Linked DNA regions of Homo sapiens. The protein of the gene in region 7 purifies or fractionates together with the protein of the main gene of each other region. This does not show direct contact. Each region holds a gene or a part of one and is shown on either strand. Other genes may lie near its edges.

The links.
Region 1: the proteins of MAPKAP1 (region 7) and NADK purify together in Homo sapiens (affinity purification with mass spectrometry, with the first as the bait; one large-scale study listed by BioGRID). This does not show direct contact.
Region 2: the proteins of MAPKAP1 (region 7) and TESK2 purify together in Homo sapiens (affinity purification with mass spectrometry, with the first as the bait; one large-scale study listed by BioGRID). This does not show direct contact.
Region 3: the proteins of MAPKAP1 (region 7) and CAMSAP2 purify together in Homo sapiens (affinity purification with mass spectrometry, with the first as the bait; one large-scale study listed by BioGRID). This does not show direct contact.
Region 4: the proteins of MAPKAP1 (region 7) and STK38 purify together in Homo sapiens (affinity purification with western blotting; one study listed by BioGRID and IntAct). This does not show direct contact.
Region 5: the proteins of MAPKAP1 (region 7) and PINK1 purify together in Homo sapiens (affinity purification with western blotting; one study listed by BioGRID). This does not show direct contact.
Region 6: the proteins of MAPKAP1 (region 7) and CGN purify together in Homo sapiens (affinity purification with mass spectrometry, with the first as the bait; one large-scale study listed by BioGRID). This does not show direct contact.

Annotation. Positions count from the first base shown.
Region 1 is NC_000001.11:1,757,971-1,761,470, forward strand, and holds part of NADK (NAD kinase), read right to left. Parts: intron 1,933-3,500; coding exon of another isoform or gene 1,764-1,932; intron 1,274-1,763; coding exon of another isoform or gene 1,131-1,273; intron 673-1,130; exon of another isoform or gene 562-672; coding exon of another isoform or gene 395-561; intron 165-394; exon of another isoform or gene 88-164; intron 1-87.
Region 2 is NC_000001.11:45,453,164-45,456,663, forward strand, and holds part of TESK2 (dual specificity testis-specific protein kinase 2), read right to left. Parts: intron 1-3,500. UniProt on the Homo sapiens protein: Dual specificity protein kinase activity catalyzing autophosphorylation and phosphorylation of exogenous substrates on both serine/threonine and tyrosine residues. Phosphorylates cofilin at 'Ser-3'. May play an important role in spermatogenesis.
Region 3 is NC_000001.11:200,825,893-200,829,392, reverse strand, and holds part of CAMSAP2 (calmodulin-regulated spectrin-associated protein 2), read right to left. Parts: intron 821-3,500; coding exon of another isoform or gene 788-820; intron 1-787. UniProt on the Homo sapiens protein: Key microtubule-organizing protein that specifically binds the minus-end of non-centrosomal microtubules and regulates their dynamics and organization.
Region 4 is NC_000006.12:36,526,980-36,530,479, reverse strand, and holds part of STK38 (serine/threonine-protein kinase 38), read left to right. Parts: intron 1-3,500. UniProt on the Homo sapiens protein: Serine/threonine-protein kinase that acts as a negative regulator of MAP3K1/2 signaling. Converts MAP3K2 from its phosphorylated form to its non-phosphorylated form and inhibits autophosphorylation of MAP3K2.
Region 5 is NC_000001.11:20,636,458-20,639,957, forward strand, and holds part of PINK1 (serine/threonine-protein kinase PINK1, mitochondrial precursor), read left to right. Parts: intron 1-1,384; coding exon 1,385-1,672; intron 1,673-3,434; coding exon 3,435-3,500. UniProt on the Homo sapiens protein: Serine/threonine-protein kinase which acts as a sensor of mitochondrial damage and protects against mitochondrial dysfunction during cellular stress.
Region 6 is NC_000001.11:151,524,887-151,528,386, forward strand, and holds part of CGN (cingulin), read left to right. Parts: intron 1-755; coding exon 756-904; intron 905-2,088; coding exon 2,089-2,221; intron 2,222-2,944; exon of another isoform or gene 2,945-3,052; intron 3,053-3,500. UniProt on the Homo sapiens protein: Probably plays a role in the formation and regulation of the tight junction (TJ) paracellular permeability barrier.
Region 7 is NC_000009.12:125,672,709-125,676,208, forward strand, and holds part of MAPKAP1 (target of rapamycin complex 2 subunit MAPKAP1), read right to left. Parts: intron 2,590-3,500; exon of another isoform or gene 2,446-2,589; intron 1-2,445. UniProt on the Homo sapiens protein: Component of the mechanistic target of rapamycin complex 2 (mTORC2), which transduces signals from growth factors to pathways involved in proliferation, cytoskeletal organization, lipogenesis and anabolic output.

The DNA.
Region 1 (3,500 bases), on a different chromosome or scaffold from region 7:
TCTCCACAGGCAGGGCCCACCCCGGTGGGATTCCCATTACCACGTTAGTCACAGAAAACATCCCAGCCCAGAACCGGGAACACACACCACGGAGCCTGCTCCTGTTCCCAGAAGCCAAGGGAGGGCGCAGCGGGGCTGGCCACCGTCGTCAGCGCTCACCGCCTATCCTCAGCCCCAAAGGACAAGTTCTTATACCACCGCGCCAGCCAGCTAGTTCCAAGTTGCCCAATCGAGAAAGCTGCTGCCTGCCATGCCTCTTCCCAGCAGTGACTTCCCCAGGAGTGTGACCGTCCCACTAACACCCCCAGAACCACAACACAGACGCCGATGGCAGCCACAGGGCCACAGACCTTAGCCCATCGCTTGTGACCTTCGGAAGCTGGTCAGCACTCACCCTGTGCAGGCATTACTGGGAGGCGTGGGGTCACTCATGCCATCCCCTATGAGCTCAGCACCTGCCGGGTCACACATGTGGCTCGCGAGGTAGCCCCTGCCTGCTGGGAGCCGGCCAGTGTGTCCACAGCATCCAGGCCACGCTTGGCGAACACGCGGCCGCCCCATCGGTATGGTCCTGACTGTGCGCCCACACTAGAAGCCTAAGCTCTTCATACTCAAAACTCAAAGCAAAACACAATTGTGATGAGACTTGGTAAAGTTGTTGTAAAAGCAACTAAGTCAAAAGAGCTTCCTACACTTATAAAAATCAAACAAAACAAAACAGTTTCCTCATTGGTCACATGGTCCTCCTGCCTAATCCCTTCTGAAAAAAAGTCCTCAGTTCAGCAGCAAAGAGGCCACACTTCAGCTCCCTGCTCCTAACTGAGCCGGGTGGGACCAAGCCCTCTGTTCCCGTGGCCTCAGACCTGGCCAAGTACCCAGCCTCCAGCCTCGCCCCAGCACTGCGCCAGCCACCGCTCTGGCCCGCGGAACCGGCTGGGCCCCAGGGAAGGCACCCTCAGGCCACAGTCAGGTGGAAGGGCGTTCCCTGCCTCCTAGCCCGCTGCGTCACTCTGCTTGGCTCCGGCCCAAGGGCGTGCAGGTGGCTCACGGTCCTCCGGCCTGGTCAGCCAGCAAAGCCCCCGCCCTGCACACGGCTCCCCCTGCTCTCCCCGCCAACAGTCACCACTGACCCAGTGGCCTGGCCTACACCCATTCCAGCCCTGAGGCTCAGCTGAGCCCAGCCAGAGCCACCAGCAGCGGCGTCGTACACCGGCCCAGGCACCCACCGCTGTGTGTGACCACAAACCAGCGCCTCGACCTCTTCCTGGGTCACCTGCAAAGCAGGACACCAGCCCTTGCAGGCACGCACGGCTGTGGGTACTGCACGGAGAGGGCAGGGGGTGGCGTGAAGCTTGCAGGCACACACGGCTGTGGGTACTGCACGGAGAGGGCAGGGGGTGGCGTGAAGCCAGCATGGCCACAGCCTGGCCCGCCTGGCCAGCTCCTACTGAGACTGTCTCACACATGGGTGGCCACGCACACTGTGACACACGGGCACTCACGCACCTCCACAACACAGGCCCACCAATTCCCTGGACAACAAAACAGGAAGCGGGTGCCCTCCTCACCAGGCGCCCCCACAGGGTCTTGCTCTGGACTATCAGGGAAGACGGAAGTTCAGATGCATGGGAAGCCCTGCCCCTCCACAGCGGGGATGGGAAGCGGGAGGTTATGATCCCAGAGACACAGAGCCCAGAGGGGGCGTGCTCCCATGGGGGTGCCGAGAAAGCTGCATGCCCCTCAAGGCTGCCCCACAAACCCACCGCTTCCTCCTGCGGGGCTGTCTGGCCTCGGGCAGCTCGGGGACCACTGAGTACGCCCTGGTCTGAGGGCTGAGGCAGAACATGCACCTGTCCGGTGACCCCGCCCTGGCCCGAGTGACTGACGGCTGGTGAAGGCAGCAGCTGAGATGCGAGTGACAAAGGAGTGGCTCTGCCAGGACCAGGAAGTGCAGGGAGGGCACCAGGCAGCGGGGGAGAGGCCCGGTGGGGTGCCAGGGACACAGCAAGCACAGGATGGCGGGACAGAGCCACGGCGGGGCCGGGAGGGCAGTGGAGCACTCTGGGTCACCCACGTGGCTGCTGTGCAGGGAAGGGATGGTGAGGCCGCGGCGAGTGGTCAGGAGTCCACACAGCGGAGGGCAGCCGGGCAATAGTGCAGGGGAGCTGCTTGGATATTTTGGGATCAAAGTGACAGAATCTGCAGATGGACTGGATGAGGGAAAGCAAACAGGGGTCGGGCCCCCCGCCTCAGGCATTTGGCAGCAGTGACAGGTCACAGACACTCCGGGAACCAGTGGCACTGAAAGGGCTGGGCCTCAAAAGCACAAGTGCGAGTCACTTCCATCCTAAGGGGCTCCGTCAGCGTCTGGAGCAGCAAGGCCAACCCCCGTCCTGCCTGGGACGCACGCTGCCGCGGGGCCCACACTTTGCAGAGCAGCTCCTCGGATGACTCCCCCGTGGCTCCTGGGACCTGAACTTCGGTGACAGCCCAGGGCTGGGGCCTCCGTCCCTGCTGTGCGCCCCCAGCCTCCATGGCACCGGTGCCTGTCAGCAAAGGGCCATGCAGTGGCCGCCCCCGTATCACACGGCCGCATTGCGCTTTCTGGTCAACAGTCCCCAGCAGCCTGCGCGCTGGAACACTCGGCCCTTCCGCATGGTCCTCCCTTGCAGAAAGTGAAGCATCCATGACTCCGTGAAGGAGGAGGCCCTGAAGAGAGCCCGTTCTGCACAGAGGAAGAGAGCCCGTTCTGCACAGAGGCCTGAGAGCTGAGGCACCAGTCCCAGAAGCAAAGGCTTCTCTGGGGAAGAGGCAATGAGGATGTCTACCAGGTGCAGAATACGACTCTCAGGGCTGGCTGGGAGCTCACTTTTTTCTCTGGAGACAGTCTTGCTCTGTCGCCCAGGCGGAATGCACTTTGATAATCACAGCTCCCTGCAATCTCAACCTCCCAGGTTCAGGTGATCCTCCCGCCCCAGCCTCCTTGGCAACTGGGACTACAGGTGTGTGCAACGATGCCTGCTAATTTTTGTATTTTTCTGAGTCTGAGTCTTGCTCTGTCGCCCAGGCTGGAGTGCAATGGTGCGATCTTCGGCTTACTGCAACATCTGCCTCCCGGGTTCAAGCAGTTCTCTGTCTCAGCCTCCCAAGTAGCTGGGATTATAGGCACGCGCCACCATGCTTGGCTAATTTTTGTACTTTTAGTAGAGATGGGGTTTCACCATATTGGCCAGGCTGGTCTTGAACTCCTGACCTCGTGATCCGCCCCCCTTGGCCTCCCAAAGTGCTGGGATTACAGGTGTGAGCCACCGCAGCTGACCAATTTTTGTGTTTTTTGTAGGGATGGGCTTTCACCATGTTGCCCGGGCTGGTCTCAAACTCCTGGGCCCAAGTGATCTGCCTGCTTCGGACTCCCACAGTGCTGGGACTGCAGGTGTGAGCCACTGCGCCCAGCCTGGATTATAATTCTTTACACATAAAACACAGATATCAGATCGATC
Region 2 (3,500 bases), on a different chromosome or scaffold from region 7:
TGAAACCACAACTCTACAAAAAAAAATACAAAAATTAGCCAGGTATGATGCTGTGTGTCTGTAGTCCCAGCTACTCGGGAGGCTGAAGTGGGAGGATCACTTGAGTCTGGGAGGTCAAGGCTGCAGTGAGATAGCACCACTGTACTCCAGCCTAGGTAACAGAATGAGACCCTGTCTCAAAAAAAAAAAAAAAAAAAAAAGAGAGAGAGAGAGATAAACCCTCTCTAACATGGTTAATTGACTGTGACATGAAGGGTGCCAAAACCATTCAATGGGGAAAGGACAGTCTTTTCAACAAATGGTGCTTGTAAAATTTGGTATCCTCAAGCAAAAGAATGAAATTGGACCCTTACTTTATACGATATTGAAAAATTAACTTAAAATGATCAATAACCTAAATGTAAGAGCTAAAACTATAAAACTCTTAGAAGAAAACATTGTGGAAAATCTTCATGATATTGGATTTGGTGATGATTCCTTGGATTGACACAAAAAGCAAAAGGTAACAAAAGAAAAAATTAATTTGACTTAATCAGAATTTAAAATTTCTGTGCAAAAAAGGACACCATCATGGGAGTGAAAAGACAAACTACAAATTGTGAGAAAATATTTGCAAATCATATATCTGGTAAGGGATAAATATTCCCTATATATAAAATATATAAATACAATGCAATTCAAAAATGAGCAAAGGATTCAAATACACATTTCTCCAAGAAGATATACAAAAAAGGTCAACAAGTACATGAAAAGATGCTCAATATCACTAGTTGTTTAGAAAAATGCAAATCAAAACCACAATGAGATACCACTTTTCACACCAAATAGGATGATTACCATGAAAAAGAAAAATAAGTGTCAGTGAGCACATGGAGAAACTGGAACCCTTACATATTGCTGATAGAACTGTAAAATGGCACAACCACTACGGAAAACAGTCTGGTGGGTCCTCAAAAAGTTAAACATAGATTGACTAAGTGAAATAAGGCAGTCAAAAAAAGACAAATACTGTATGTTTTCACTTACATAAGATATCTAGGGTAGTCAAACTCTTAGAAATAAAGTAGGATAGTGGTTGCCAGGGGTTGGGGGGAATGGAGAAATGAGGAGTTGTTTAATGGGTACAGAGTTTCAGTTTTGCAAAATGAAAAAGTTCTGGAGTTTGGAGGCACAACCATGTGTACATACTTAACAGTTGTGTTAAGTATGTACTTAACATAATTAAATACTGTTAAGATAGTAAGAAAAAGATTTATTTTTTATTTTTTTATTATTTTATTTTATTTTATTTTTCCCCCAGAGACAGAGTTTCGTCATGTTGCCCAGGCTGGTCTCAAACTCCTGGGCTCAGGCAATTCTCCCGTCTTGGCCTCTCAAAGTGCTGGGATTACAGGCGTCAACCACAATGCCCAGCCAAAATGGTAAATTTTGTATGTATTTTACCATAATCTTTTCTTAAACATAGAATTACTCATATGACTCAGCAATTCTATTTACAGCTAAATACCCAAAAGAATTGCAAGCAAAGAACCAAATAGATACCTGTATATCAATATCCATAGCAGCATTAGTCACAATAGCCAAAAGGTGGAAACAGCCCCACCATCGACAGATAAAATATGACATATATACACAATGCAATATTAGCCATAAAAAGGAATGAAATTCTAATATATGCTACAACATGAATAACCCTGAAAACACTATGCTAAGTGAATTAACTCTAACACAAATGGATAAATATTATATTAACCCACTTATATAAGGTACCTAGAATAAGCAAATTCATAAAAACAGCAAGTAGAAGATATTAGTGGGTGGGAGTGAAACTGCCCCCACAGGGTTCACAAGAAGTGCATGCCAGGTTCTGGACAGAAATATAGTTATAATTAAGCATTAATCAGGCCGCACTTTGGCCCACTTCCTGGTTGCTAAAAGTCATATAGCACTAGATACTGACTATTTGCATTCCTATTGTTCCTACAGAATAGGATTTCTGACATTAGGGTCATAAAACTTTAAGATTTTATTTCTATCCCCATCTTTCCTATAACAGGATCTCTGACATTATAATCATAAGGCTTTTGTTTAAGGATTGCTTAATATGTTTTTCAGACCCCTGAATTCCAGCAACCAGTTTGAAGTCCCCCACAGAGGAACGGGATCTGCAAGAGAATACAGCTTCTTCATCTCCCTGTCCCATGACTTCATCCTGTACTCTTTAACAAATAAACAATTGCCACACTTCGGCCCACTTCAAAACCCTTAAAAAACCTTAGCCCCCATCTCTTACGGGAGATGAATTTGAGGTTTTCCTCCATCTCCTCATTTGGCGGCCCTATGATTAGACCTTTCTCTGCTGCAACCTGGAGTCTCAGCTTATTGACTTGCTGTGTGCATTGGGCAATGAACCCATTTACAGTTACAGAAGGGAGAATTAGTGAGTTAACGTTTCATGGGTACAGAGATTCTGTTTAGGTGATGAGAAAGTTCTGGAAAAGGATAATGGAGATGGTTGTACAACATTGTAAATGTAATTAATGACACTGAACTGTACACTTAAAAAATGGCTAAGATGGTAAATTTATGTTATATATATTTTACTGCAATAAAAAGTATTTTAGAGAAAGACACATTAGAAAGAAAGAAGCTGGAAATGGTACATAGAGACAACTCTATGGAGTTGTTTTGGTCCAAAAAAAAACAAGACATGGGAAAGTATACCTATTAATAAAAGAAACAATAGGGGCTGGGTGTGGTGGCTCTTACCTGTAATCCCAACACTTTGGGAGGCCGAGGCAGGCTGATCACTTGAGCCCAGGAGTTCAAGAACAGCCTGGGCAACAAGGTGAAACCCCAACTCTCCAAAAAATACAAAAATTAGCTGGGCATGGTGTCATGCACCTGTAGTCCCAGTTACTCTGGAGGCTGAGGTGGGGGGATCATCTGAGTCCAGGGAGGTCAAGACTGCAGTAAGCCATGATCACACCACACTGCACTCTAGCCTGGGTGACAGAGCGAAACCCTGTCTCAAAAAATAAAATAAAATAAAATAAAATAATAGAATAAAATAGGTTGGGCGCGGTGGCTCATGCCTATAATCCCAGCACTTTGGGAGGCTGAGGTAGGTGGATCACTTGAGGTCAGGAGTTCAAGACCAGCCTGGCCGAAATGGTGAAACTCTGTCTCTACTAAAAATACAAAAATTAGCCAGGTGTGGTGGCAGGCGCCTGTAATCCCAGCTACTAGGGAGGCTGAGGCAGGAGAATTGCTTGAACCCGGGAAGCAGAGGTTGCAGTGAGCCAAGATTATGCCACTGCACCCCAGCCTGGGCAACAGAGTGAGACTCCATCTCAAAAAAAATAAAAATAAAATAAAATAAAGGGGAAATAACAGAGCCAAAATATTTGGGTTTTTTTTTTCCTTAAAAGAATTTTTTTAACATGTTAATGGTAATACTTAGTAGTGAAAATACAATGTAGAAAAGAGAGGGGAGAATT
Region 3 (3,500 bases), on a different chromosome or scaffold from region 7:
AAATAGAGATGGGGGTTCAATATGTTGTCCAAGATGGTCTTGAACTCCTGGGCTCAAGCAGTCCTCCCACCTTGGCCTCTCAAAGTACTAGGATTATAAGCGTGAGCCACCATGCTCAGCCACAAAGATGATTTTTAAATGCAGGCAATTTATTCATGCAATTCAAATTAATATTTACTAAAATTATTTAAATTAATGAGAAGCTACATAGTAAGATTTTTGTTTTTGTTTTTGTTTTTGAGACGGTTTCACTCTTGTTGCCCAGGCTGGAGTGCAATGGCGCGATCTCGGCTCACTGCAACCTCTGCCTCCCTGGTTCAAGCGATTCTCCTGCCTCAGCCTCCCGAGTAGCTGGGATTACAGGCATGCGCCACCACGCCCAGCTAATTTTGTATTTTTAGTAGAGATGGGGTTTTTCCATGTTGGTCAGGCTGGTCTCGACCTCCTGACCTCATGATCTGCCCACCTTGGCCTCCCAAAGTGCTGGGATTACAGGTGTGAGCCACCGCACCTGGCCCATAAGTTTTTTTTTTTTAACCTACTTACTGATAGTCTGTGAATACTGACAAGATTAGCAACAGGATGTTTACCCTTTAAATTATTTTTAGAACTTCTGATCTAAACCTTGGCTGTATCTTTTATCTTTCCATTTTACATGACCTTAAAATCCAATCTCTATTCAATGACTAACAGAATTACATGAAATGACTTTAACAGCAAGACATAAACAATACCATTCTACAATTACAATTCTGGAGAGCAAACTGAAGTAGCTGAGCAAACTTACTGGAACCAGTTTCCAAAACCATTTGGAAGGAGACTTCAGAGGAAGCAGCGGGAAAAAAGGGGAAAGCAAAAGGTAAAGGGAAAATTCATCAGAATTATCTTCAATTAACAAATTATAGTAAAGCTTCTGATAGTGGAGTTCCAAGTTTATAGTTCTCATAACATTTCATATGTTAATAAATATTTTAGTTAAAAATACATAAGTTCCTAATGCTAAAGACCACTATCTTCTCCTGTCTCTCTCCTCTCCCCATACAGATATTCATTGTAGGATACCTAGAATATGCTGTATACTTTAGCAGCAAAAAATTTTATTTCTGAGTTTTGGAATCATATGTCATATTAAAAAATAAATCTATATCACAAAAGGGAAGTAAAAATATTCTACAGCTAGGTTTGCAATCATAATTCTTAGGTATTAGTAGACTGTGTCTGACAAGGCAATATTCCCCAAAAAGCAAAGTAGAAAGATAATTTCAATAAAAACAAGTATAAAGCAAATAATAATATAGTAGAATATATCAAGATGATCATTTCCTTCACTATATAAAAAGTTTCTTTTAATTAATGGAAAAAAACCTAGTTGGCAATTGTTACCAGTTAAGATTTTTGTAAGTGTCTAAAGCAAGTAACTACTCACACAAAGAGAATATAAATGTTATTAAATTTACTATCTAGGGCTGTCCCAAAGAATCTAATTTTCTTCTTTAAAAAAATGAATATAATAAACCCATAATTTCAGATAACATGAATTAATCATTTGTGTTTGTTTATCTTTGTATCTGCTAAAACAGCTTCTGGCTCTGAATAAATGTTTGTTGAAGTGAACCAAAGTAAATAGAATCTGAGTTAAAATTCATATCCAAAATTAAAATTCATATCCAAAATTTTTATGTAGAAAGTTTTTCCGTATAAACAGAAAAATAATATAAATAAGGTATTTTCAAGAACTTTAAGAATTAGAAAAATGTCACCTGAAGAATCAGAAACATACCAGCTTCCTACATATAAACAACATTTCCAATAAATTTTTCTTATAGCACCAGGAAGAATAGCCTCAATAATTTTGTGGAATGTATTTTAATCTCCCATTTAACTGAACGTTTTTGGCAGCTGCAGTTATAATAGCCACAAAAAGTACAAGAGCAGGACCAAAGAGCAGGAAGCCACTGAAAACGTGTCAGGGTTTCCAATTTGTAACAGAAATTTTAAAAACAAGGATTTTTTTGTTTTCTAGACTAGAAGAACCCATTAAATAGAAAATGGTGATAACAAGAAATTATTGTGGACTATTCCTAACAGCAGGTGTACAAAGAAGTCTCTTAACGGTTAAAGTTATTCCATATTTCTTGTAAAATATGCAATAATTGGATTTTGTTACTAATTCAGACTGCTCTGGCCTTTCTCTTGGCCCTCCATTGATCTAAACTGGTAACAGCAATCTTCTTGGCGGAAAAAGGAAACCCACAGATTGGCTGTGTGAAGGAAATTTAACTAAAGAGTAAATGTACTAAAAGAACAAATAAATATACTATGCATACTTATATACGTATGCTTCAAAAAGCTCAAATACATAGCATAAGTTCCTTGCTGAAGAATAACGCCATTTCTGAAGTGATCAGCAACTATCCTTTTGGTTTTCAGGGAAGAATTAGGCAAACTGCAACATCAAATCCTGTTTTAAGATGTAAATAACCACGAGGACAAAGGTTTTTTGATTTTTTTTTTCTTTTTATCAGGACCACCAGGCAAGAAACAAAGGGTTTTTTAAAACCCATGGATAACAGGTGAAAAAACTTTTATTAAGTTTCTACCGACAAAGGGGCCAACCTAGGCAGTCCAGATTTTCTGGAATAGTTCTAATTTCAAATATTCCTTTCAATTGTCTTTATAATACATGTTTGGCTCACCCTGAATTTTGGCTAGTTGTTTTAGGACTTGCCATTAATACTCTCCAAATAATACTCTTCCTCTGGGTATCTACAACATTCTGGCAAGGTAGGATAATTCCTGAACTACTTCTAGGTGCTCTCAGGCCGTTCCAGGAGGATATTGGTTTGGTGTGGTCTTTATTGGAGACCTCAAAGAGTTGGGGTCCTTCAGGGAGTTAATCATGGCTGTGACTTGTTACTGCATGACTTGTTAACTTGTTAGATTTAATCTTTTTTTTTTTTTTTGAGACAGTCTCCCTCTGTCACCCAGGGTAGAGGGCAGCGGAGCTATCTCAGCTCACTGCAACCTCTGCCTCCCAGGTTCAAGCAATTCTCCCACCTCAGCCTCCCTAGTAGCTGGGACAACAGGCATGCACCACCATGCTTGGCTAATTTTTGTATTTTTTGGTAGAGACGGGGTTTCACCATGTTGGCCAGGCTGGTCTTGAGCTCCTGACCTCAAGTGAACCTCCCACCTAGGCCTCCCAAAGTGCTGGGATTACAAGTGTGAGCCACCACGCCCAGCCATTAGACTTAATCTCCTAGCTGTTGCAGATCCAAAAGTTATGCCGAATCGCTGATGGAATATAAAATGGTACAAGCTCTTTTGGAGGGGATTTCGTCAACATTTAACAAAACTACATACAGTATGCATTTACCCTTCAATCTAGCAGTCCAACTTCTAGGAAATTTACCTTGAAAATACATATCCAAAATACAAAAGGCCACATATAACAGTATTCTGTGCAGCACAATTTGCAATAGCAAGATACTGGAAACTAC
Region 4 (3,500 bases), on a different chromosome or scaffold from region 7:
GGCAGAAGAATCACTTGTACCCGGGAGGCAGAGGTTGCAGTGAGCCGAGATAGTACCACTGCACTTCAGCCTGGGTGACAGAGTAAGACTCTTGTCTCAAAAAAAAAAGTATTTATTAGACATTTTCTGAATTTTAATCATGGAGATGTAATCACAGCCCTTTCCCCTCCCCCTCCGCTCCCCTCTTCTCTTCCTGACAGAATCTCGATCTGTCGCTCCTCTTCTCTTCTCTTTTCTTTCTGACAGAATCTCGCTCTGTCACCCAGGCTGGAGTGCAGTGGCACGATCTCAGCTCACTGCAACCTCTGCCTCCCAGGTTCCAGAGATTTTCCTGCCTCAGCCTCCTGAGTAGCTGGGATTACAGGCACGTGCCACCACGCCCGGCTAATTTTTGTATTTTTAGTAGAGATGGGGTTTCACCATGTTGGCCAGGCTGGTGTCCAACTCCTGGCCTCAGGCGGTGTGCGAGCCTCAGCCTCCCAAAGTGCTGGGATTACGGGTGTGAGCCACCATGCCTGGCCCTATTTCTGTTAAATACACTATTTTTCCTGGTTTTCAGTGTCTCACCAAAATACTGTCTGTTTTCAATTAGGGTGGAATAGCCCTATTCTCTCATCCCTGCTACCTCCAAATCAGGCTATGCCAAGAGGGGACCCTAAATTAGATTAGAAAAGGGGGCTAATTGTAAGTAGTAGTCATGAATGTGTCTGCACATTGCTATACATTCTGACTTTTTAAAATTTAGCAGCATACATTTAGAAAGTAGCTGTGTACAAAGCACTATTCTTAGTGGACATAGGGAATTCAGATATAGTCCCTGCCTTCAGAAGGACTTACCACTCTCTCATATAAGAAATGAACACACACGCAACTAAATGGAACACATGGAAGGCATCACTGGGGTGAGGCTGGATATGGCCTCTAAGTGTGAAAGTGGCTTCGTCTCTCTCCTAGGGTTCTGGTTTTGAACATTGGAATTGAAGGGAAGAGTGGCTCCACCAAGGGCTGGAGTGTTAGTTAACCTGGCACTGCTACCAGAGAACATGCCTGTGTGGAGAGTCCTGCTATTCTTTTTCATTATGAACAATTTTAAACATAGGTGGAATAATATAGTGACCCCGTTTCAATATATTCATCCCTCAGATTTAATAATTTTAGGGCTTTGGTACATTTTCTTCATCTATCCCATTTTGTTTTTTCTTGCTATTGTGTTTTAAGGTAAATTCCAAACATCTGTCATTTTAATCCTACATACTGTCAAGTATGCATTTCCAAAAATATGGCCATTTTCTTGCATAATGCAAATGCCACCATGAATCTAACCAAGTTAACAGTAATTCCTTTGATGTCATCTCACAGAGGATGTCATTTTTAAGTCTCATTTCAGGCTGTCCTTGCTGTTTTTGGTGTCCTCAAGGTCTTTGTGGACCTGGTCCTAATTGTTATCATGGATAGGCTTTTTTTTTCTGGATACTTTCTCTAATGAAATAATCTGATTGTGTTCAAGGAGTTAACTTCACTCTCAGGCAGGTATTCTGCAACCAATTTAATTACACTTCAGTAAACCTGTGGAAAACCTCTTAGTTTGTATTTAGGTTTAAAATATAATTAGAAGGAGCCACTTTTGTGACACAGTGGATAGTGCATTGGACTGGTAGCCCATTCTGATGTAGTCATTCAAAAACGTGTAGTCAGGACGTATGATGGTGTTTAGTACTCAAGGCACAAAAAGAGCTGACCACAGCTGTGTTCTTAGAGCTTTTGCCTAGCATGTTATGCTTTGACTTTTCTTGTTCTTCTCTGCTTCAACTACCTAACCACTTGCAATGGAATTAATTTACACTCCCGAAACTACTAAGAGTACAGCCTTTTCTCTCTAATACATGTGCACGCATAGATGCACATGTATCCCAAAATATTCTGGGAACTGGGAGAACTGTTCGTGTTCCTCTCTCTGTTTCCTGTCTTGATTAGTGGCATCATATCCCTCTAGACAGGAAATTCTAAGGTTTTTCTCTTGACTCCTATTGCCAGTTGGTCATATTTGCAATAGCTCTATTCACTTCATTCTAGTTTTCCTGCCCTAGTTCCAGATCTTTACTGTACATCTGAATCATTACAATAACTCTCAACTAGCCTCTTTCTCAGTTGCTTTCCCTGCCAGTCCATCAGATCCTCATTACTGCTGGTTACCATTCTAAAATAGAAATCTTATCACATCACTCCTTTGCACACAAGCCTCTTTTAGCACTCAGTTGTCTACAGAATGAGATCCAACCTTCTTGGTGTGGCATTTGTAGTGCTGTGTGCGTCAGCCACAATGGACTACATGCTATTTCTGCAGCATACTGTACACTCTTTTTTTTTTTTTGAGATGGAGTCTCGCTCTGTTACCGAGGCTAGAGTGCAGTGGTGCGATCTCGGCTCACTGCAAGCTCCGCCTCCTGGGTTCACAACATTCTCCTGCCTCAGCCTCCCGAGTAGCTGGGACTACAGGCGCCGGCCACTACACCTGGCTAATTTTTTTTTTTTTTTTGTATTTTTAGTAGAGATGGGGTTTCTCTGTGTTAGCCAGGATGGTCTCGATCTCCTGACCTCGTGATCTGCCTGCCTCAGCCTCTCAAAGTGCTGGGATTACAGGCGTGAGCCACCGCACCTGGCCAGCATACTGTAGTCTTATCCTTCTTTGCTCTGTTTGTACACATTGCCTGTTTATCTGGAATGCTGATGAGTGGTGGAGGAGAGATTCTAGCCCATGTGCTTTCATTTATTGTGCTGAATAAATGAAGGTTCTGTGGAATTGGTTGTAAGGAAGTTTTACTTGCTTCTTTTAGTTTTATGAGACTATAGATCAAAAACATTACTGCATGTACTTTCTAAAGTTCAGTATTCCAAAAGTTTGATGTCTGAAGGTTTTTTTTTTCTTTGAGGCAGAGTCTCACTCCGACATCTGAGCTGGAGTGCACTGGTGTGCTCTCGCCTCACTGCAACCTCTGCCTCCCAGGTTCAAGTGATTCTTGTGCCTCAGCCCCTCCCAAGTAACTGGGATTACAGGCACCTGTCACTATGCCCAGCTAATTTTTATATACATATATGTGTGTGTGTGTGTGTGTACTAATATATATACATATATTACATATATGTGTGTGTATATATATGTGTGTATATATACGTATATACATATGTGTATATGTATATATGTATACATGTGTACATATATACATATGTATACATGTGTATATACATATAAATATATATATATATACATATATTTTTTTTTTTTTTTTTGAGACGGAGTCTTGCTCTGTCACCCAGGCTGGCATGCAGTGGCGTGATCTTGACTCACTGCAACCTCTGCCTCCCAGGTTCAGGCAATTCTTCTGCTTCAGCCTCCTGAGTAGCTGGGACTACAGGCGCTCGCCACCACGCCTAGCTGATTTTTGTATTTTTAGTAGAGACAGGGTTTTACTATGTTGGCCAGGCTGGTTTCGAACTCCTGA
Region 5 (3,500 bases), on a different chromosome or scaffold from region 7:
CAGCCTCCTGAGTAGCTGGGATTACATGTGCACACCACCACACCCGGCTAATTTTTTGTATTTTTTAGTAGAGACGGGGTTTCACTATGTTGGCCAGGCTGGTCTTGAACTCCTGACTTCATGATCCGCCTCCCTCGGCCTCCCAAAGTGCTGGGATTACAGGCATGAGCCACCACGCCCGGCCTGGACTTTCATTTTTTTAAAAGGTTCAAAGTTATAGTGCAAGGTTAAGTTGCTTACAGATAGCAGGTGCTTTAGGAACCCTCTAGAAGGAAAGTTGCCATGGGCTGGGTCATCAGGGCTGGTCACAGAGGAAGGAGGAGCTTGAGTTGGGCTTGATGGCTGAGCAGGGATGAGCCAGACAGAGCAATACTATAGAAACAGGGGCTGGAAGGATGCTGTGAGCAGCTTTCAGAGGGAGGCGTCCAAAGGATGAGTGCAGGCAGCGTGCAGACCAGCCTGGCAGCAGCCAGAACACAGATAACCTCCTGGGCAGTCTGATGGACAGCCGAGTGACACATGAAAGCAACATATTTTGATGTGGCTCAGAGCAGGGAAGGCACGGCACTGAGAGTGGGGTAGTCTAGAGATGGTGCCTGGTAGGCTATGGCCAAGGGGCATATGCAGAGCTGTGCCTGGCACCCAGGGGTGACTAACCTTGGAAAGGAAGAGCTCAGCAGATCAGACCATTTGAGAGGGAAAGCGGAGCCTGGGTGACTGGAAGAGTGACGTCACCGCTGCCTGAAGCAGGGGAAGACCCACCAGATTTTTGTCACATGGCCTCTTTCCCAGTGCAGCACTGCCCCCAGCACCTGCACCTCCATCTATTTCTGTCTGAACTCTTGTACTCTTGCTACCTTTCTGGACAGAGTAGCCTCATCGGGGCCCTAAGAGGCAGAGAGAGAAAGACAGTACTGAATCCCTCTGCTCTGGGGATGCGCCTGATGTCACCCACTTGCCTGAGAGACCCTCTGAGATCACTGTGGATCACACACTCCTGCTAGTTGCCCAGGAGCCGTCAGCCAAGGTCTTTGCAGAGCGAGCTGTCTCCATAATCAGACACCTCCAGAACTCTGCTGGAGAGTGAAGGCAGCAAGGAGAGGTGCACTGGCTGCGGGACGTGGGGTTTCTGACCTCTCAGATCATTGAGTATTGTGATCCCAGTGAAGCAACAGAGTTTGAGAAAAATCATTCTGAATAATGAGAAAGAAGATGGCCTGGACCCAGGCTGAGCAGTAGAACCTGGTTGGGTTGTGTTTTTCTGGTTTATTGATCTGGTCGACGTGGACCACGCCTTGCTGCACCTCTCTCTGCCTCCCCTGTTTCCCTTTTCTTGGGCCTTCCTAGGCTCCCTGGCTCACGGTGCATTCTTTTCTCATCACAGGCAATTTTTACCCAGAAAAGCAAGCCGGGGCCTGACCCGTTGGACACGAGACGCTTGCAGGGCTTTCGGCTGGAGGAGTATCTGATAGGGCAGTCCATTGGTAAGGGCTGCAGTGCTGCTGTGTATGAAGCCACCATGCCTACATTGCCCCAGAACCTGGAGGTGACAAAGAGCACCGGGTTGCTTCCAGGGAGAGGCCCAGGTACCAGTGCACCAGGAGAAGGGCAGGAGCGAGCTCCGGGGGCCCCTGCCTTCCCCTTGGCCATCAAGATGATGTGGAACATCTCGGTAAGCACCAGGCCTTTCATCTTTAAAGGAGATGTTCTCAAAATGCCCATCTTAGTGGGCCTGGTGAGGATTTTTTCCAGGAAGTAGGTAGGAAAAGACAGATTATCCACAGGAAAGGTGCCTGTATAGTCAGGTTACCTCCCCCTGTTACACAGAAGTCTAAACCAGAATGTTTGAAATTGTATTCTGCCCACAGATCACCCAGAGATCAGGTTCAAAGGTAGATTTTGGCCAGGCCTGGTGGACCATGCCTGTAATCCCAGCACTTTGGGAGGCCAATCACTTGAGCTCAGGAGTTTGAGACCAGCCTGGGCAACATGATGAAACCCCATCTCTATGAAAAATACAAAAATTAGCCGGGTGTGACAGCTTGCACCTGTATGTAGTCTTAGCTACTTGGGTGGCTGGTGGCTGAAGTGGGAGGATCACTTGAGTGCAAGAGGCAGAGGCTGCAGTGATCCAAGATTGTGGCACTGCACTCCAGCCTGGGTAACAGAGTAAGACCCTGTCTCAAAACAAAACAAACAAACAAAAAAAACCCAAAGGTAGATTCTGATTCAGCAGGTCAGGGATGGGGCCTAAGATTGTGCCTTCCCAATAAGCTCCCACGTGATACCAATGCCACTGCTCTGTCAACCACACTTTGAGTAACAAGTGCCTAAACCACTGATTTCTACCTTGATTGGTTAGTTCACCATCCCCTCCTTCCTGCAACCTGCCTCACTGGAGAGGGGGAACTGGATCTCTTTCCTTTAAGCTCACTCTGCAAGCCCACCTCCAGCTCAGAGGCTTGCATGTCAACTCCCTACTCTCAACTCTTGGAAGGACTCAAGACTTTGGGAAATTGAAGAGTATTTTTCCCCCACGAAAACAATTTCTGTCCACTTAATTTATTTACCTTGCCATTGCTAGGTAGGTTTTAAAAATGTATTAAGACCCGATGCTCTGTCTCCTGCCCATCCCTGGGCCCATCCATTCAAGGCCGCAGTGGGAAGTGGCCACAGCCGTTCATGGTGGGCCCTAGAGGATGCAGTTTCTTGTTCTGATTTGGGGAATGAAGGTTATTAGACTGTTGCACTCCAAGCTGGGTTAATAGCTAACAAGTAGCCAAATCCTTTGCCTGTGAAACATCCAGTCTTAGCATCAAAACATGCCCTGGTTGGGGCATGACAGCTGTTGCATTCACAGCAGCTACAAGATTGTTGATTCTTACCAGATCTTCTTGATACAGGTTTCATATGTCCTGAGAGCCCTTCCCAATACAATGAGGACAATAAGGTGCTTTCCCCACTCTTTGGTTTTTGTCTGTTTGTCGTGGGGGATGGAGGAAGGCTGTTCTGTGATTCAGTACAACTTCACCCAGGGTGGAGCATGTCAGGCTCTGGCCTGGCTGCTGAAGGGAGCCTGCAGAATGAGTTAGTGATCCAGTGGTCAATTTTGAACTGGTGGGGACCAGAGGCACCGATGGCAGGAAGCAGCACCCCATATCCTGATCACCTTGGCATCTCCTCCAGCCCTGGCATCTAGGCTGCAAGAGTTTGAGGAGTGTGAAGAATCCTCTGAGTTGGCATGGATGGTACCTCTGTCTGCCTCCCAGGAGTAACTAGTCTCAGCCTGCCAGTTAAGACAGGTCATCTTATCTCGAAGGTCAGAGCCAATTCTAGGCAGTAGCTGCCCTGCTCCAGGTTACAGGCAGGGCTTACAAGGAACTTACCATTCTGCTCCGGCCTGTGTAACCCTGGGTTCCTTGTGGGTGTTCCAGGCAGGTTCCTCCAGCGAAGCCATCTTGAACACAATGAGCCAGGAGCTGGTCCCAGCGAGCCGAGTG
Region 6 (3,500 bases), on a different chromosome or scaffold from region 7:
GCATGTGACAAGAGCAGGGTCTGAGAGAGGAGGGCACTGCTGGAGAACAAGGCTGCCTTGGGATCTTGGACTTTTGGACTTTTCATGGTTGCAACTGGGAACTCCCCCTCTCCTCCTAAAGGACACAGTGAGATCTGCTGAAAACCTTGGGCAGGAAAACTATAGGGGCAGAGGGAGGGAGTACAGGCCAGAAGTACCTTGAGGTTGTGTGACAAAAGTCCCAAGGGGGACTGGGTGCGGTAGCTCATGCATGTAATCCCAGCACTTTGGGAGGCTGAGGCGGGTGGACTGCTTGAGCTCAGGAAGTTAGAGACCAGCCTGGGTAACATGGAGAAACCCCATCTCTGCCAAAAATACAAAAACTTAGCTGGGTGTAGTGATGCGTACTTGTAGTCCTAGCTACTTGGGAGGCTAAGGCAGGAGAATCGCTTGAACCAAGGAAGCGGAGGTTGCAGTGAGCCGAGATCATGCCATTGCACTTCACCCTGGGCAACACAGCGAGACTCTGTCCCCCTAAAAATAAAAAGTCCCAAGGGGAAATAACTGGGGAGGTTTCCTGTAGATGATAGAGGGGTGGACTGTGACTTGAGGAGAGAATCTCTGCTAGCATTGTACCAGGTACCACAAGAGTGTCAGGGGGTGCACCTGGCATGGTGCCCTCTGGGTCTAAGCCTTTCCTTGTACACACTCACACTTTGATTTGAAGTGACCTCTTCCCTCTGAGCCTTCTGGTGTCCAACTCTCCCCTTCTCTAGGACCATGCAGTGCTGGAGGCCGAGAGGCAGAAGATGTCAGCCCTTGTGCGAGGGCTGCAGAGGGAGCTGGAGGAGACTTCAGAGGAGACAGGGCATTGGCAGAGTATGTTCCAGAAGAACAAGGAGGATCTTAGAGCCACCAAGCAGGAGTAAGGACATTGGCCCTCTCAGAAATACCCATGATTCATATGCCACTTCCTTTCTTTTTTTTAATTTTTAATTTTAATTTTAATTTTAATTTATTTTTTGGGACAGAGTTTCGCTCTTGTTTCCCAGGCTGGAGTGTCATGGCACGATCTTGGCTCACTGCAACCTCTGCCTCCTGAGTTGAACAGATTCTCCTGCCTCAGCCTCCCAAGTAGCTGGGATTACAGGCGCATGCCACTACGCCCAGCTAATTTTTGTATTTTTAGTAGAGATGAGGTTTTACCATGTTGGCCAGGCCAGTCTCGAACTCCTGACCTCAGGTGATCTGTCCACCTTGCCTCCCAAAGCACTGGGATTACGGGTGTGAGCCGCTGCGCCTGGCCCCCTTTCTCCTTTTTTTTTTTTTTTGAGATGGAGTCACACTCTGTTGCCCAGGCTAGAGTGCAGTGGTGCAGTCTTGGCTCACTGCAGCCTCCGCCTCCTGGGTTCAAGCGATTCTCCTGCCTCAGCCTCCCGAGTAGCTGGGATTATAGGCGCCTGCCACTAGGCCTGGGTTTTTTGTATTTTTAGTAGAGACGGGGTTTCACCATATTGGCCAGGCTGGTCTTGAACTCCTGACTTCGTGATCCTCCCACCTCGGCCCCCCAAAACGCTGGGATTACAGGCGTGAGCCACTGCACCCAGTCCCTTTCTTCTTTTTTTTGAGACAGGGTCTTGCTCTGTTGCCCAGGCTGGAGTGCAGTGGCACAGTCTGGGCTCACTGCAACCTCCACCTCCTGGGCTCAAGCCATCCTCCCACCTCAGCCTCCCGAATAGGTGGGACTATAGGCATGCACCACCACACTTGGCTAATTTTTGTATTTTTTGTAGAGACGGGGTTTCATTATGTTGCCCAGGCTGGTCTTGAACTCCTGGGCTCAAGTGATCCATCTGCCTTGGCCTCCCAAATTGCTGGGATTACAGGCATGAGCCACCATGCCTGGCCCACTTCCTTTCTATCTATGGTATGCTCTTACTCTCCCATTTCTCAAACTGCTCTTTTCCACGTTCACCTTCCTTCCTCTTGAGAGTTGGTGCCCAGCGTGTTGGCCTCCAGAGAGGTGGCTTTTATTGTCATGCTAACCTCCCCCAGGCATGTGGCCTTACTCTGTTCCCTTTCCCCTTTATTTCACCTTGCCTGGCTCAGACTCCTGCAGCTGCGAATGGAGAAGGAGGAGATGGAAGAGGAGCTTGGAGAGAAGATAGAGGTCTTGCAGAGGGAATTAGAGCAGGCCCGAGCTAGTGCTGGAGATACTCGCCAGGTTGAGGTGCTCAAGAAGGTATTTGGGAATTGGGGGGCAGAATGGTAGGTAGGGGTGATGAACACCTGCCTTACCTCTCCATGAGGGCCTTCTTGCTAGTGGGGCTATCTCCTGTGTGCTTGGTTTCCAGGCCTCATCCTGCCTGCTCAGCTTGATCTCTTTCCAGCACAGCAGCACCAGTCTCCTCATTGAGCATAGAGGTTTCTAATGGAAAGTGCTCTCAGAACCCAGGTTGGGGTATAGCCAGAGGCTGCTGGCCGACTCCCAAGAGACGTCATGGGTAGCAGCATTTAGGTGGATTTGTGAAACTCCAGGATGATTTTTGCAGGCTCAGAAATCTAATTTGGTCAGCATGGCAAAAGCTGCTTTGTCTTTCAGAGGGGTCTCTAACTACATTTATGAAAAAATGTTTACCATTAGAATTTCAGTTTATTAATTTACATTGAGAAATATCATCACATGGACTGGAATACTTGTGTTGGCATGGCCTGGTTACTAATGTAACAAAACTAATTAGCAAAAGAAAAATAGCAGAGTATATGGTATTACATTGAAGATTCACTACATATTATATAACCCTTTAGCCTAATTATGGTACTTTCTGAATTTCAGAAGTAGCTAATAGCTAATAATTAGAACCAGAACTCCTATTTTAATTTTCTTTTTAAAAGAAATCAGAGCTGTGCCAGCATTTATTGTGTCACACATTTTGGTTTTATACACACACACACACACACACACACACACACGAAAGACAAGTGGCAGCTGCAGGGATTGTGCTGACCTGTTCTGTCAAAGTCTCTCCAGGTTGCTCTTGCATGCAGTTGGAGATCCCATGGCCACACTATATATATATATATATTTTTTTTTTTTTTTTTTTTTTTGAGACGGAGTCTCACTCTGTCACCCAGGGTGGAATGCAGTGGCGTGATCTCGGCTCACTGCAAGCTCCGCCTCCTGGGTTCACGCCGTTCTCCTGCCTCAGCCTCCCGAGTTGCTGGGACTACAGGCGCCCACCACCACGCCCGGCTAATTTTTTTTGTATTTTTACAAAAAAAATACACGTACTCAGTGTTTCACCGTGAAACATGGTTTCACCGTGTTAACCAGGTTGGTCTTGATCTCCTGACCTTGTGATCCGCCCTCCTTGGCCTCCCAAAGTGCCGGGATTACAGGCGTGAGCCACCGCACCCAGCCTCACACTGTATTTTTTTTAAACAACCAGCCTTACTAGCCATACCTTCATGTACTCTCCCTTCATGGTATTTTTTTTTTTATGGAGTTATATTTTACATGC
Region 7 (3,500 bases):
GACACATTCAGTGTAGTAAAATGCCACCTTGAAAATCAACATTTATCCCTGTTCTGTGGAGCTTAAAAGGATTTAGTCTAAGCTGAAAGGAAATCCTTATAAGCACTAGGGGCTGCAGCTCTAGTCAATGAGATCTCTATAGAATCAGAAAGGAAGGCTTGCACTCTTGCAAAACAAATCACAGCAACTCCTTACAAGTCAGGCCACTCGAAGCACATAACTACTGTTAAAACAATATATTTTCCTTTCTTTCTCCCTTCACTATCATGCAATCTTCTCATTACTTTATAAGGTCATGGGGGAACAAGTTGTATTTTCCTCAAATGATGTGCTAAAGTACAAAACTCTATTTCATCAGTTTACATTTCCCCTCCTGTCATATGATTGTGAAGTGTTTAAAAGGGCACAGACAATGCTTTCAGAGTTACTAGGGGTTTTATAAAAATGATGTACCACCAAATTAATGTTGCTCAATGAATATATTTTCCTGTCAAGATAGTATTGTGTTTTTGTTGTTGTTGTTGTTGTGTTTTTTCTGAGACAGGGTATCGCGCTTGTTGCCCAGGCTGGAGTGCAGTGGCGTGATCTTGGCTCACTGCAACCTCCACCTCCCAGGTTCAAGATTCTCCGGCCTCAGCCTCCCGCGTAGCTGGGATTACAGGGATGCGCCACCATGCCCAGCTAATTTTGTATTTTTAGTAGAAATGGGGTTTCTCCATGTTGGTCAGGCTGGTCTCAAACTCCCGACCTCAGTTGATCCGCCCGCCTTGGCCTCCCAAAGTGCTGTGATTACAGGCGTGAGCCACCATGCCTGGCCTGTGTTTTTAAAATAAAATTTATAATCAAAATTACCTACTATACAATCAACTTCTTATTTTAGAAACTTAATTATAAAAACTGCTTCCTCAGTCCTGTTAAAACTGTAATGAGGCCGGGCACAGTGATTCACACCTGTACTCTCAACCCTTTGGGGGGCCGAGGCAGGAGGACTGCTTGAGTCCAGGAGTTCAAGACCAACATGGGCAACACAATCAAAACTCTATCTCTACAAAAATATATATATATAATAATTATTATTTTTTAATTAGCTGAGCATGGTGGGACATGCCTGTAGTCATAGCTACTCATGAGGCTGAAGTGGGGGGATCACTTGAGCCCCAGCATTCAAGGCTGCAGTGAGCTATGATTGCACCATTGCACTCCAGCCTGGGTGACATAGTGAGACCCTGTCTTCTAAAAACAAAACAAAACAAAACATACAAAAAACACTGTAATAATATTTGTTCTAGTAACAAGATAGCACCCTCTCAGTTAAGTGAAAATACTCAACAAAGAAAATATTGCAGGACAACGGTTAGGTACTAGGCCCTAGAGACAGAAAGGGTTCAAACCCTGGCCCTATTACTCGTTAGCTATAAGATCTCAGTCAAAATACTTTACCTTTTTGAGCCTCCCTTTTTTTTTTCCTTCATTTATAAAATGGAAGCTTCAGGAGATAATGCAGGTAAAATGCTCAAAAAAATACATGGCATGTAATTAAATAAATGTTAGCTATTAATAATAATGATAAAAAATCAATAATTTCAATGATCAATTCTTGCTTAAAGTAGTCCTAAAATATGTCAATATCCCATCTGTCTTAGTAAGTTCGTGGCACATAAAATAAGTCTGTGCTTCCTTTGTGATAGAGGACACTGCAAGTCATCTGAGTGACTTCCCTGCCCCTGCAAAATTGTTGAGAAGTACAAGGAATATGAAAGCTGGATTGACTATGTTTCCAGGAACAGTCCTAGAAGATACTTACTTTCAGAAGGACTTATAACACCAGATTTTCTTGTAATCTGTTTCTTCTAGAAATGGAACATAGAGAGGAAATCTAGCTAATAAATCCTTACAGTTAACTAAGGTTTTAAAAATTGTTGTCTGGAAACACATCATTCTGCTGATGTGTCTTAAAGTGGGTCTTAAAATAAAGATACTGAGATTAAAAAGAAATTTAACTGAGGAGCATCTCTAATCAAGCAAATTACATTAATCTTCACTTTTTTCCTCTTAATATATTCCTTGAGTACTTATTTTACTCTGAGGCTAATGGGAAATGCAAAGGTGAGTAAGGTATCCCTGAATCAAAAAGTTAATACCCTAATACAGACCGAGTACATCTCCTAATACCATGGGATTCCTTTAAGCATCAAATTTCTGAGATATCTGGTCCCTGAAGTATTAGTGTCAATCTACCATTTTAAGGATATTGATCAGAAAAAAATATGAAATTAACAATGAGCATTTAAATTTCACTTGTAAAAATACAAACTTCTCTATAACCATAAAAAATGTATACACCACACATTTATTTATAAATGAGAGTATTTGTGGAAGCATAGTATCACAGATCAGAGCTGCAAACATCCTTCTACAGCAATCACAATAAGCCATCTTCCTGGCATGAAAGGAAGGCAGCTAGTCACCAGTAGAGAGGCAGGTGCTTTCAAATTCATACTGAATAGTTCTCCCTTGCAAAAACAAGGGCTTTAATGAGAAGTCACACATTTAATACACTTGATCTTAGCCAAAAGGCCGAGAAGTGATCAGATATTTAATAGGTGTTCTAGCACCAAAAAGTCAAATGGCAAAAGGCAAAGTGACAAAAGTATACTGAAGTGCCCTCAATAAAATCTATTCTAGGGAAATAGATCACTTCTGAAGATAAGAGGAATGGGCAAACACTTCTGAAGGCACATACCAACTTCCCAGCTTTATCCTCCCAGAACAAATGCCTCAACAGCAGCAGATATCTTCTCTATTAGGACACTATGACTTCATACATTAAGGAATCTGTATGATTCATTCAAAAAATATTTATTCCCTACCAGCTCTGATATGGAACTCCCACAGGACTGCCCCAGAAAACATATTATTGTGTATGTCACTTTTTACCTCCAATTACATGTACTTAAAGACTTAGACTATAAGTTCCACAAGGACAGGGTTCATAACACCATATTCCTTCTGGCAACAAAGGCTGTTATACATGGCAGGAGTTCAATAAATGTTGCTGTCTAACTTCCAAGGACTATTCAATTTTGTTGTAGAGATAAGTCATATATGAATGTGCCAGGTGTAAGTGTGTGATTATAAATAAAGGATTGTCTTTTTTTCGTAATACAAGAGCATCTCTTCAACGTGCCCTTCAAAATTGTCCCCTTGGAACACTATTCAACTTATTCTAACAAGACTACTTTTCAAAACCCAAAAGAATATTTTAAAAAATCTCCCAAAGAGCAGCAAATTATCATTTGAAGCTATGTTTGATTTCCAAGACAAGGACATACATATCACGGATAAAAACAAATTGTACTCTCTGATCAGTTGTGCACAGATCAAAAAGATTTTTAAAAATCTAACTCTGGCAAGGGTTCAGAGAAATGGGCACTCTCATGCACAATATGAAGGAATGAAAACTGGGACTTTTTAGACGGTAATTTGGTAATATTTACCAA